Linked DNA regions of Homo sapiens: region 2 is linked to region 1. The links come from fine-mapping of genetic effects on plasma protein levels. A gene starts in region 1. The other region holds a variant in brackets. All regions are shown on one strand. Distances are between the middles of the regions.

Region 1 (5,537 bases):
ATCAAGTCTAGCATACCCTGAAGGTGGGAGAAGAGAGGGAATTAAACTTCATTCACTTCTTAAAGATAGCAGTATCTACAGATCACTTAGAATTTTTCTATAAGGAAAATTAGTCTCTTCTTCCACATTTATTTATGCAATCATTTATTAATATTAATATGAAGTAATGTATATTTATTTTATACTTTGAATTATAATCCAGTATACATTATTCACTTTTTTGCTCAAATTGTTCTGGCTTTGGCTGGAAGTTCTTTCAGATTGGTTCCTGTGTCCCTTTGACATGCTCTATCCTTTTGCTTTTTCAACATTTCCTTACTATCTGGTACTACAAGATACTCCAGGCACATTTTGTATTTTCGTTGCCCAAGTCCTGAAATCAACCTTTTCTCCAAAAAGCTCTGGGTTTTAAAACAAATTACAATTTATCTGTTTTGGTTTTTATAAGCATTGCCATGATGACCATCCTTGATGTTATATCTCTGGAAAACTCCATGATTATTTCTTTTAGATAAATATCTAAAAGTGGAATTCCCGGATTAAAGGCATCTAAAATGCTTTTACTATGTTTTCCACTAACAAGGTGTGAGATGGGGGGGCTGCCTCAGGGGCTGCAACTCAAAGCCCACTTCAAATGGGAAACACTATCCATCCGTCAATCCATTTATCTATCTTAGAACTCTCTTTCTATGACTTTCTTATTTTCAAAACAAACAAGGAATAAAGAAAGAAAAAAATGAAACAAGTAAACAAAAGACCTCTCATCTAGACTCTCTAACCACCCAACAAATCACATTGCTCCTCCTAGGAGGAAATGGTTGAGGTGTCAGACTGAGAATGACATCTATTTCCCTTCATGGGGAGAGCACTTGTTAATTCACCTATTAATTCACTTTTAAAATATAATTTTACATTTTATCAAAGTAATACATATACATAGTTTAAACATTCAAGTGGCACTCTAAGACTTACCACGAATAACAGCAATACAGTGCTATATCCCTTCCCATTGCCAAACTTTCTTCACAGAAAAAATCACTTTCATTTCTTTTAGCTTTTTTTTTTTCTGGGGTTTATTTCCATATCTATAAAGAACATGTTTATACTGCAATTTAATTTTTTTTTCAATTTTAGACATTATCTATTGACTTCTTACTAACTATGGAAGATAAAGACTGAAGTCTCTTACCAATTCTATACACAAACACACACATATGTGCATCCTTTCCTAACCCCATTCTTTCAATATAGTTATAACTTTTGTTAAATCCATTAATGTTTTCATTGTTGTGACTCTATAGTTATTCATAGCTGAGCCACATATTGGACTTTAAATATATTTTCTTATATAACATTTTCTTTTTCCTGGAATTAATAATTATGCCATTTTTTGGTTTCCTTAACTTACTGAGCCGATTACTCATCCTTCTCCAAACTTTCTAAGAGTGCTGCAAAACTTTTCAAGTTTCAACATCTGTCAGATCCATTGGGTCCCCTCCATGTATTTTTTCATTGGAAATATCCCTCCTTGAGCCTGGCGTCTGCCACTCACTTGGGCTAGTTGCTCTCCAAGCCTGTTGTACTCTTATCATCTTGGGATCTCCCTTGGCCACCATTCTTGGAATTCTCTCTCTTCTATTTGAAATTTGCTGTTTTTGGGAGCCCATTTTTCCTTTTTGTTTTGGCTTATGCTCTTGTTTTTGTAGTCACTTTTTTCAATAACATCTCGAAAATGGTCACATGGGAGATAAAGTTCTTGAAACTTGGCATGTTGGAAAATGCAGTTTCAAGAACGTTGTTTTACCTTTCTTTCTGATGGATCATTTGGATGGGTAGAGCATCCTAGGTGAGAAATAATTTTCCAATAGAGTTATAAAGGAATTGATCCATTGCTTTCTAACTTCTGGTTTTGTTATTAAGTCTAAAGCCATTCTCATCCTTGATCCTTTGTATGTGACTTATTTTTTTCCTATCTGGAAACATTTTTTTTCTGTTTATTCTTGATATTCTGAAACTTCACTGTTTTGTACTTCAGTGTAGATTTATTTTCATTTATTATGCTGTTTACAGTGGGCCCTTTCAATCTGGAAACAAATGTTCCTCAATTCTTGGGAATTTTATTGTATCACTTCTCTCATTATTTCTTTCCCTCCATTCCTCTGTTCTGTGCTTCTGTACTGCTGGTAGTCAGATGTTGGCTATTCTTCATCTCTTTGTCTTTTCTTCTATCTTCTGGAAGATTTCCTCAACTTTATTTTCTAGTCTTTAGACTTCAGCTCTCATATTTTGAATCTCCAAGAGTTCTTGTTCTCTAATTATGCCTTTATCATAGCATCCTATTCATATTTTGTGGGTACAACATTTTTTCTTATTTTCTATGAAGGTTTAACTAATATTTCTTTTAAAAAATATTCTGCTTTCTGCATTGCCTTTCTTTCAAGTTTTTTCCCCCCATCTGCTGTTGGGATGGGAGAAATTTAATGAATTTGGCTTTGTGGGGTTAGGATTAGGTAGTCTATTTCTTTTTCAGATTTTCAACCAATCTTATGATTTTTGTTTCAGAGGTATAGTCAATTCTCATTATTCCTTCATTATTCCTGGCAATTATGTTCAATAAAATCGCCACAAACACTGAATTAGAAAATACTGCTGAGCGTGGTGGCTCATGCCTGTAATCCCAGCACTTTGGGAGGCCGAGGCAGGTGGATCACCTGAGGTCAGGAGTTTGAGACCAGCCTGAACAACATGGAGAAACCCCGTCTCTACTAAAAATACAAAATCAGCTGGGCTTGGTGGCGCATGCCTGTAATCCCAGCTACATGGGAGGCTGGCCTGAGGCAGGAGAATCACTTCAACCCGGGAGGTGGAGGTTGCGGTGAGCTGAGATGGCGCAATTGCACTCCAGCCTAAGCAACAAGAGCGAAACTCTGTCTCAGAAGAAAAAAAAAAAGAAAAAAAGAAAATACTGAATTATTCTCTGTGGGGGAAATATAGAGTTAGGTGCCTGTGAGCCTCTGGTCACAACATTTTTGTCAGCTAATCAATACATAACCTTGTTTTGTGTGTGTTTCTGTTTAAAGACACCTTATTTAATATACATTGTTGATTCATCAACATTGAACTCATGGCTAATAACAGTACTATGACTCATGCCTGAATAGAGCTTATTTAACACACATATTTTCTCCATGAGGCACAGCCTCCTTCTGCTTAGGAACACCAGACAGCACTCCAGCACTCTGCTTGGGGGGCATTCGAAACAGCAAAATCACTCATAAAAGGCAAAAAATTGCAAAAAAAAATAGTAATAACCAGCATGGCACTAAATAGACCATGAAAAGACATGTGTGTGCAGTATGAAAATTGAGACAGGAAGGCAGAGTGTCAGCTTGTTCCACCTCAGCTGGGAATGTGCATCAGGCAACTCAAGTTTTTCACCACGGCATGTGTCTGTGAATGTCCGCAAAACATTGTGAGTATTGATTTGGGGGGTTACAAATAATTCCTAGCAAGTAGGTGAATTCACAAATAAGGAAGCTGTGAGTAATGAGGGTTGATTTTACCTACCTAGTGTCTCAAATCCTGAGCCGTATGAGATTCCGTGGCATAATTATGTTTGCTTATTGTTGGCAACCTTATTAGGCATTTCTAGGTTTCTGCTTTCTCATCTTTACCAGTTCAGTTATGGCTTGATTCATTTCTCTTTTTCCAAAGATTTGTTGACATCTCTTATTTGCTGTTGCCTCTTCCCATTTGTTTTGTCTTGTGGTTCTATATCTTTGCCATAATTTTTGTGGAGTTTCCTGAGAGAGTAGAGATAAATGTATATGCTCAATTGGTCTTGTCTTAACCAGAATTCTATTTAATACACAACACCTTTAGTGAGCTGTTATGCATGTAATAGGTGTTTACTAAGTATTGGTTGAATAAATTCAAGAAATGCTTGCTATTTTTGTGCTAGCATTTAGCTTTTCTCTATAGTATATTATAATGGAATTTTATTTTATTTTATTTTATTTATTTTTTGAGACAGAGTTTCACTCTTGTCGCCAGGTTGGAGTACAATGGCACGATCTTGGCTCACTGCAACCTCTGCCTCCCGGGTTCAAGCGATTCTCCTGCCTCAGCCTCCCGAGTAGCTGGGATTACAGGTGCCTGCCACCATGCCTGACTAATTTTTTTGTATTTTTAGTAGAGATGGGGTTTTGCCATGTTGGTCAGGCTGGTCTCAAACTCCTGACATCAGGTGATCCACCTGCCTCAGCCTCCCAAAGTGCTGGGATTACAGGCGTGAGCCACCACGCCTGGCTGGAATTTTAAATATCTCATAATTATAATCTTCTAGGTAAAAGACTAGCTCTCTTTCTCACCCTTATTCCTCCTACTTAGTGGAACATTGCCTAAGGAAGATGGGGAATGGGTTAAAAATTAAAATGTGGGGCTGGAAAGCATAGCTTGTTTTAAAACTTAGTTTTCTTTCCTTTTGCATCATAATCTCTTCCCCGGTCTATTTATTTCTCGTGGTTTTGTCAGTCCATTACAAACGGTTGCAAAATTGTGGTACTAGAAGGGATCCTAGAAATAATCTAATTTGAACCTTTGATTGCTAGGAAACTGAGAGTCAGGCTGCCTTGGTTCAAGTCTTGGCTCCACCACCCATGTAGGACATGTTGCTTACTGTTTTGACCTCAGTTTCCTTGCCTATAAAGTGGGAATAAAAATACTCCTGATGTTATAGGATTGTTGTGAAGATTAAAAGAGATAATTAATGTGAAGTTCTTAGTACTATGCCTGACACACAGTAAGAGCTCCACAAATTATTAATGATGATTATTACTAGTGGCTAAACTGAAGCTCTGGTTTCTCAGTTCAGTATGTTTTCCTTTAGACGTAAATAAGAATTTGTAAGCCTCTTTTTGGAGTCAGCTACCATTATTTTCTTTCCTTCATCTCCTTCATTGTCTAAAGACAGTTAACATGATTGCGTATTTCTCATTTCAAGCTAAAGATACTCTCACTGTTTCAGCTATTACCACATTTGTAAGGACTTCCTGAAGAGAAAATTTAAAAGTTAGTCACTTCTTTTAGTTGTTTCTGGTCTTTCAGATGATCCTTTTTTTTTGTAGAGTTGAGTGTTTTTGTTTTTGCTTTTGTTTTTAGTTAACAATAATGCAATCCATTTCCCAGCATAAGTGGGTAAGTGCCACTTTGACTTGGGCTGGGCTTAAAAGCACAAGAAAAGCTCGCAGACAATCAGAGTGGAAACACTCCCACATCTTAGTGTGGATAAATTAAAGTCCAGATTGTTCTTCCTGTCCTGACTTGTGCTGTGGGAGGTGGAGTTGCCTTTGATGCAAATCCTTTGAGCCAGCAGAACATCTGTGGAACATCCCCTGATACATGAAGGTGAGTGCTAATTCATTTAGAAGAGTGATAGTTTGATCATCTTTTTCTACTTTATAAAAGTCTTTTTCTGTTTTCTTCAGTGAAATTATGGGTCAGACCCACCACGTGAATTTCTCCTTGAACTGGTTGTT
Region 2 (5,000 bases), 58 kb after region 1:
CAGCCTCCCTAATGAGGCTTTACCCTTTTAATCCTGTCACCACAATCATTTCTTAATGCTTCAAACATCCATATTAAGAATAATACACAGGCAGGGATGCAGGCAAGTAGAGGAGATAGAAGTCACAGTGTTTGAGATCCACAGGGTGATGATATGTTGTTCTAGAACTTAATTAGGCAGCGTGTTCAGCGATCCTATGGATCTCTCTGCTGCAATAGTATTTGGTCAGAACAGACCTGGGGATTCCCTGCCTCCAAAAAATAAAAAGCTAAAAAGCTAAATTTAAAAATAAGAATTAGTTAGAAAATCTGAGAAAAGCAATAGATATTAGAGACCATTCAACCTAACCTGTTTATTTTCCAGAGGTGGAAACTGTAGAGAAATGGAATATCTTCTATAAGTGTTTGGCCATAACTCTTAGTCTAGTATTCCCCCCACTCTGCCGTGCTCTGCACTTACACTTTTTTTTCTTTCTTTTTCACAGATAAATTAAAACCTTTCTGGTGCTATAACATCTCTGTGTATCCAATGTTGCATGACAAAGTTGGCGAGCCATATTCCATCCAGGCTTATGCCAAAGAAGGCGGTATGAATGGACAAGACCCTGTGGGGAAAAGGAAACAGTGTGACCTGTCCCACATGCCGATAAGGCTGCAAGTGCCTGTAGCTCATTCCCAGCCATCTTAGGGCTCATTTGTGCTTCATCTTGTAGTGAGCTCTGTATGTTATGAATTTGCTGAATTCTGAAGCTGGGGTAGACATTAGAGATCATTGAGTCCAATCCCCTCATTTCACAAATGGAAAATTAAAACTCAGAGAGGTGAAATAACTTGCCCAAAGTCACAAATAAACAGTGCAAATAGAGCTGCTACCAGCAATAACACTGAATTAAGACCACATCAGGGAGCCTAGAGTTCATCCTAAGCTAGGGATGTTAAAAAATTATTTTTAATTATGTAGCAATAAGCAAAGGCTTTACTGGTGAATTGCTCAAGCTTTACTTTTATCTTTTTGGAAGTTCATGTCTTCCAGATTCAACACTGGAAAACATCTTCTGCCACTCAAAGGTAGCCTATGGAGCCATATTCTTCAACTATTTGATAATAACTACACTTTACAGATATGAATGAAAAAGCTGGGTACCAAATTGGAGACATCTATGAGAAAGGACTTTTTCAAGTGGTCTTGTTGCCACTTCTCTTCTTGCTTAAGAGAGATGGTTCTAGAAAACAATTTTCCCAAACAAGCTGATTCATCAATTCCCTACTCAACCCTCACCCGTCGCCTCCAGCACTATGGTTTGGTCTGAGTACTGGCCAGGGCCTTTGTGGGGGAACGATCTCCTGGAGTGCGGTTCAGTGATTATCATTTATCCCTCTGTCCTTTCCAGTTCCATCAGAAGGTCCTGAGACCAAGGTGGAGAACATTGGCGTGAAGACGGTCACGATCACATGGAAAGAGATTCCCAAGAGTGAGAGAAAGGGTATCATCTGCAACTACACCATCTTTTACCAAGCTGAAGGTGGAAAAGGATTCTGTAAGCACGCCCATAGCGAAGTGGAAAAAAACCCCAAGCCCCAGATAGATGCTATGGATAGACCTGTTGTAGGCATGGCTCCCCCATCTCATTGTGACTTGCAACCTGGCATGAATCACTTAGCTTCTTTAAATCTCTCTGAAAATGGGGCCAAGAGCACCCACCTTTTGGGGTTTTGGGGGTTAAATGAGAGTGAAGTGACAGTACCTGAGAGGAGAGTCCTGAGGAAATGGAAGGAGTTGTTATAATTTGTCCTGGTTAGGCCCTGAATTGACCTCCCGGGAGCTCCCCGACCATCATTCCCAGGAATGGCGTGCCTGGCTTAAAGAGTGAGGAGGAACAGACCCTGTCACCATGACTTCTACTGCCCCTGCCAAATCATGCTTTTGTTTTTCAGTCCACCTTATCTCCTGACATCTTAAATACTGGGCAAGGCTTGGATTCTTGCTTAGGCTAAATAATTTTTTCTTATGGTAAAATACACGTAAAATATTTTTCCAGTTTAAACATTTGAAAGTGTACAATTTAGTGGCATTAGAAGCATTCACAATATTGTGCAACCATCACCACTATTTCCAGAACTCTTCTATTTCTGCCCAAATAGAAGCCCTATACCCATTCATTAGTCACTCCCCATTCCTCTCCTCCCACAGCCCCTGGCAACTACCAAACTGCTTTGTGTCTCTATGGATTGCCTATTTTGGATATTTCATATACATAGAATCATAAAATATGTGGTCTTTGTGTCTGGCTTCTTTCATGTAGCATGTTTTCAAAGTTCACCCATGTTATAGCATGATTTTGTACTTATTCATTTTTATGGCTGAATAATATTCCATTGTGTGGATATTCCATATTTTGTTTATCCATTCATCAGTTGATGAACATTTAGGGTGTTTCAACCTTTAGGCTATTGTGAATAGGGCTGCTATGAACAGATGTCTGCTACGAACATATGCTGCTGTGTACAAATATGTGTTTGAGTTTGTGTTTTTCGTTCTTTGGGGCATATACCTAGAAGTTGAATTGCTGGATCATACTGTAACTCTAGTTTAACTTATTGAGGAGCCACCAAACAGTTTTCCACAGTGACTACTCCACACTATACATTTTTTACTAGCAATGTATGAGAGTTTTCATTTCCCTGCATCCTTGTCAATACGTGTTATTTTTCATTAAAAAAAATTATTATGGCTGTCCTGGTAGGTATGTAGTGGTTATCTCATTGACTTGCATTTCCCTACTGACTAATAATGTTGGGCATCTTTTCATGTAGTTTTTGCCCATTTGTATATCTTTTTTTTTTTTTTGAGACGGAGTTTTGCTGTTGTTGCCCAGACTGGAGTGCAATGGCA[C/T]GATCTTGGCTCGCTGCAACCTCCACCTCCCAGGTTCAAGCGATTCTCCTGCCTCAGCCTCCCAAGTAGCTGGGATTGCAGGTGTGCACCACCACGTCCAGCTAATTTTGTATTTTTAGTAGAGATGGAGTTTCTCCATGTTGGTCAGGCTGGTCTCGAACTCCCGACCTCGGGTGATCTGCCTGCCCCAGCTTCCCAAAGTGCTGGGATGACAGGCATGAGCCACTGCGCCCGGCCAGCCCGTTTGTATATCTTCTTTGGAGAAGTGTATTTTTCATCTTTTTTCTTATGTTTAAATTGGGTTATCTTTTCGTTATTGAATTTATAAGAGTTCTTTATATATTCTGGATATAAGTTATTTATCAGATATATGATTTGTAAATATTTTCTCCCATTCTTTGGATTATCTTTTCATTCTTGATATTATCTTTTGATGCACAAAAACTTTGAATTTTAGTGAAGTCCAGCTTGATCTATTTTTTTCTTTTGATGTTTGTGTTTTTAGTGTCATATCAAAGAAACCATTGTGAAATTCAAGGTTGTGAAGATTTATCCTATGCTGTCTTCTAAGAATTTTTATAGTTCTAGTTCTTATATTGAGGTCCTTAATCCATCTTGATATTTAAGCAGGACATGAATAGGGGTCAGAATATGAGACAGCTGAGCTTGGAAGCACAGGTTCCAATGCTCTTATTTTGGTGCTACTGGGACACAATTTTCAGTCTGGTTTGGCTGTGGTGTTTGACCTTTGTATTTTTCCTTTAGCCAAGACAGTCAATTCCAGCATCTTGCAGTACGGCCTGGAGTCCCTGAAACGAAAGACCTCTTACATTGTTCAGGTCATGGCCAGCACCAGTGCTGGGGGAACCAACGGGACCAGCATAAATTTCAAGACATTGTCATTCAGTGAGTATTTCCTTCAAGCCTTAGGTACCTCTCCCTCACGTTTACCTTACATCAGAGAGAAATGACATCTGCCAAAAGCTGGAGGAAGCCAAATGAAAGGGCAGTGCCTAGTGCCCTGCCATCCTGCTCTCTGTTCACCAACCTTCCTGGAAAGCATATAGGTGAGGAGATGGGAGGGAAGAGCAGGCAAGTTGAGAGCCGAATTTGGAAATGCTGGTCATTTTGGTCGTTCCTCATGGGCAGCCACAAATCATCTGGAGGAGGAGGTGTCAAATTAATGCCAACTTCAGTCTTAGCACCAAACCAGCTCCCATCTCAAGGCTGTCTCCCCGTTCATAGTCACCAGTTTCTGCATGTTATAGGTTACGGTATGTATTAGTCTGTTTTCACGCTGCTGATAAAGACATACCCGGGACTGGGTAATTTATAAAGAAAAAGAGGTTTAATGGACTCACAGTTCCACGTGGCTGGGGAAGCCTCACAGTCATGGTGGAAGGTGAAATGCACATCTTACATGGTGGCAGTCAAGAGAGAATGAGGACCAAGTGAAAGTGATTTCCCCCTATAAAACCATCAGATCTCATGAGATTTATTCACTACTATGAGAACAGTATGGGGGAAATTGCCCCCATGATTCAATTATCTCCCCCTGGGTCCCTCCCACAACATGTAGGAATTATGGGAGCTACAATTCAAGATGTGATTTGGGTGGGGACACAGCCAAACCATATCACTGTACAACAGGGCCTTCAAGGGAAAACCTTGGTTAACTCAGGACTACTGACCCATAGGAAGGGGCTTAACCTCATCATTTGTGGAGGTTTTTTTTGAGCAAAAAGACATATGATATATTTAACTTACCCACTTTTACATTAAAAAATAGCAAGAAAAATTTACTAGAGACAACAAATAATGTAAAATAAAATGTAGCTTCATATGATGGCTGGTTAAGGGAGATATTTAGAGGCAGGCAGATGGAATGAGGAGGGGGATGAAGCAGAAAGAAGGAAGGAGAATGGGAGAAACAGATATATATTAATTTTGCTAAGTCCTTGAGTGACAGAGATTTGATTTTTAAGTACGTACTAAAACTGTCTTAAAGAATGAACAACGCTTTTTAGATTAAAAATGAAGGAACACTGCCAAGTTTTTGCAATAACTGAGGCAAGCTAAAAATTGCTTGAAATATTCTTGAAAGCCTC

Alleles and levels. Positions count from the first base shown, and alleles are read on the strand shown. Strength reflects both the effect of a copy and how common the allele is.
In carriers of allele C in region 2, the plasma level of the protein whose gene starts at base 3,196 in region 1 tends to be higher than with T alone (strong association).

What was found. A credible set is the group of variants that fine-mapping cannot tell apart. PIP is the chance, under the fine-mapping model, that this variant and not a neighbour inherited with it causes the effect. Protein levels are from antibody-based Olink assays in UK Biobank. Linkage for the fine-mapping came from a reference panel and not from the study's own genotypes, which makes the PIPs less certain.
Region 2: its variant is the best candidate, but not a certain one, in a credible set for the plasma level of the IL31RA protein (UK Biobank, PIP 0.57).

The regions. Positions count from the first base shown.
Region 1 is chr5:55,848,162-55,853,698 of GRCh38, forward strand. It overlaps IL31RA (interleukin 31 receptor A), which reads left to right and starts at 3,196. Exons shown (of 15, transcript NM_139017.7): 1 at 3,196-3,472. The coding sequence starts at 3,410.
Region 2 is chr5:55,906,875-55,911,874 of GRCh38, forward strand. IL31RA (interleukin 31 receptor A) reads left to right here. Exons shown (of 15, transcript NM_139017.7): 10 at 485-586; 11 at 1,391-1,537; 12 at 3,658-3,798. Among named protein-coding and RNA genes, the nearest start is that of IL31RA, 58 kb to the left of the region's middle. RefSeq lists an enhancer at 3,944-5,000. The variant C/T (reference allele first, on the strand shown) is at 2,893.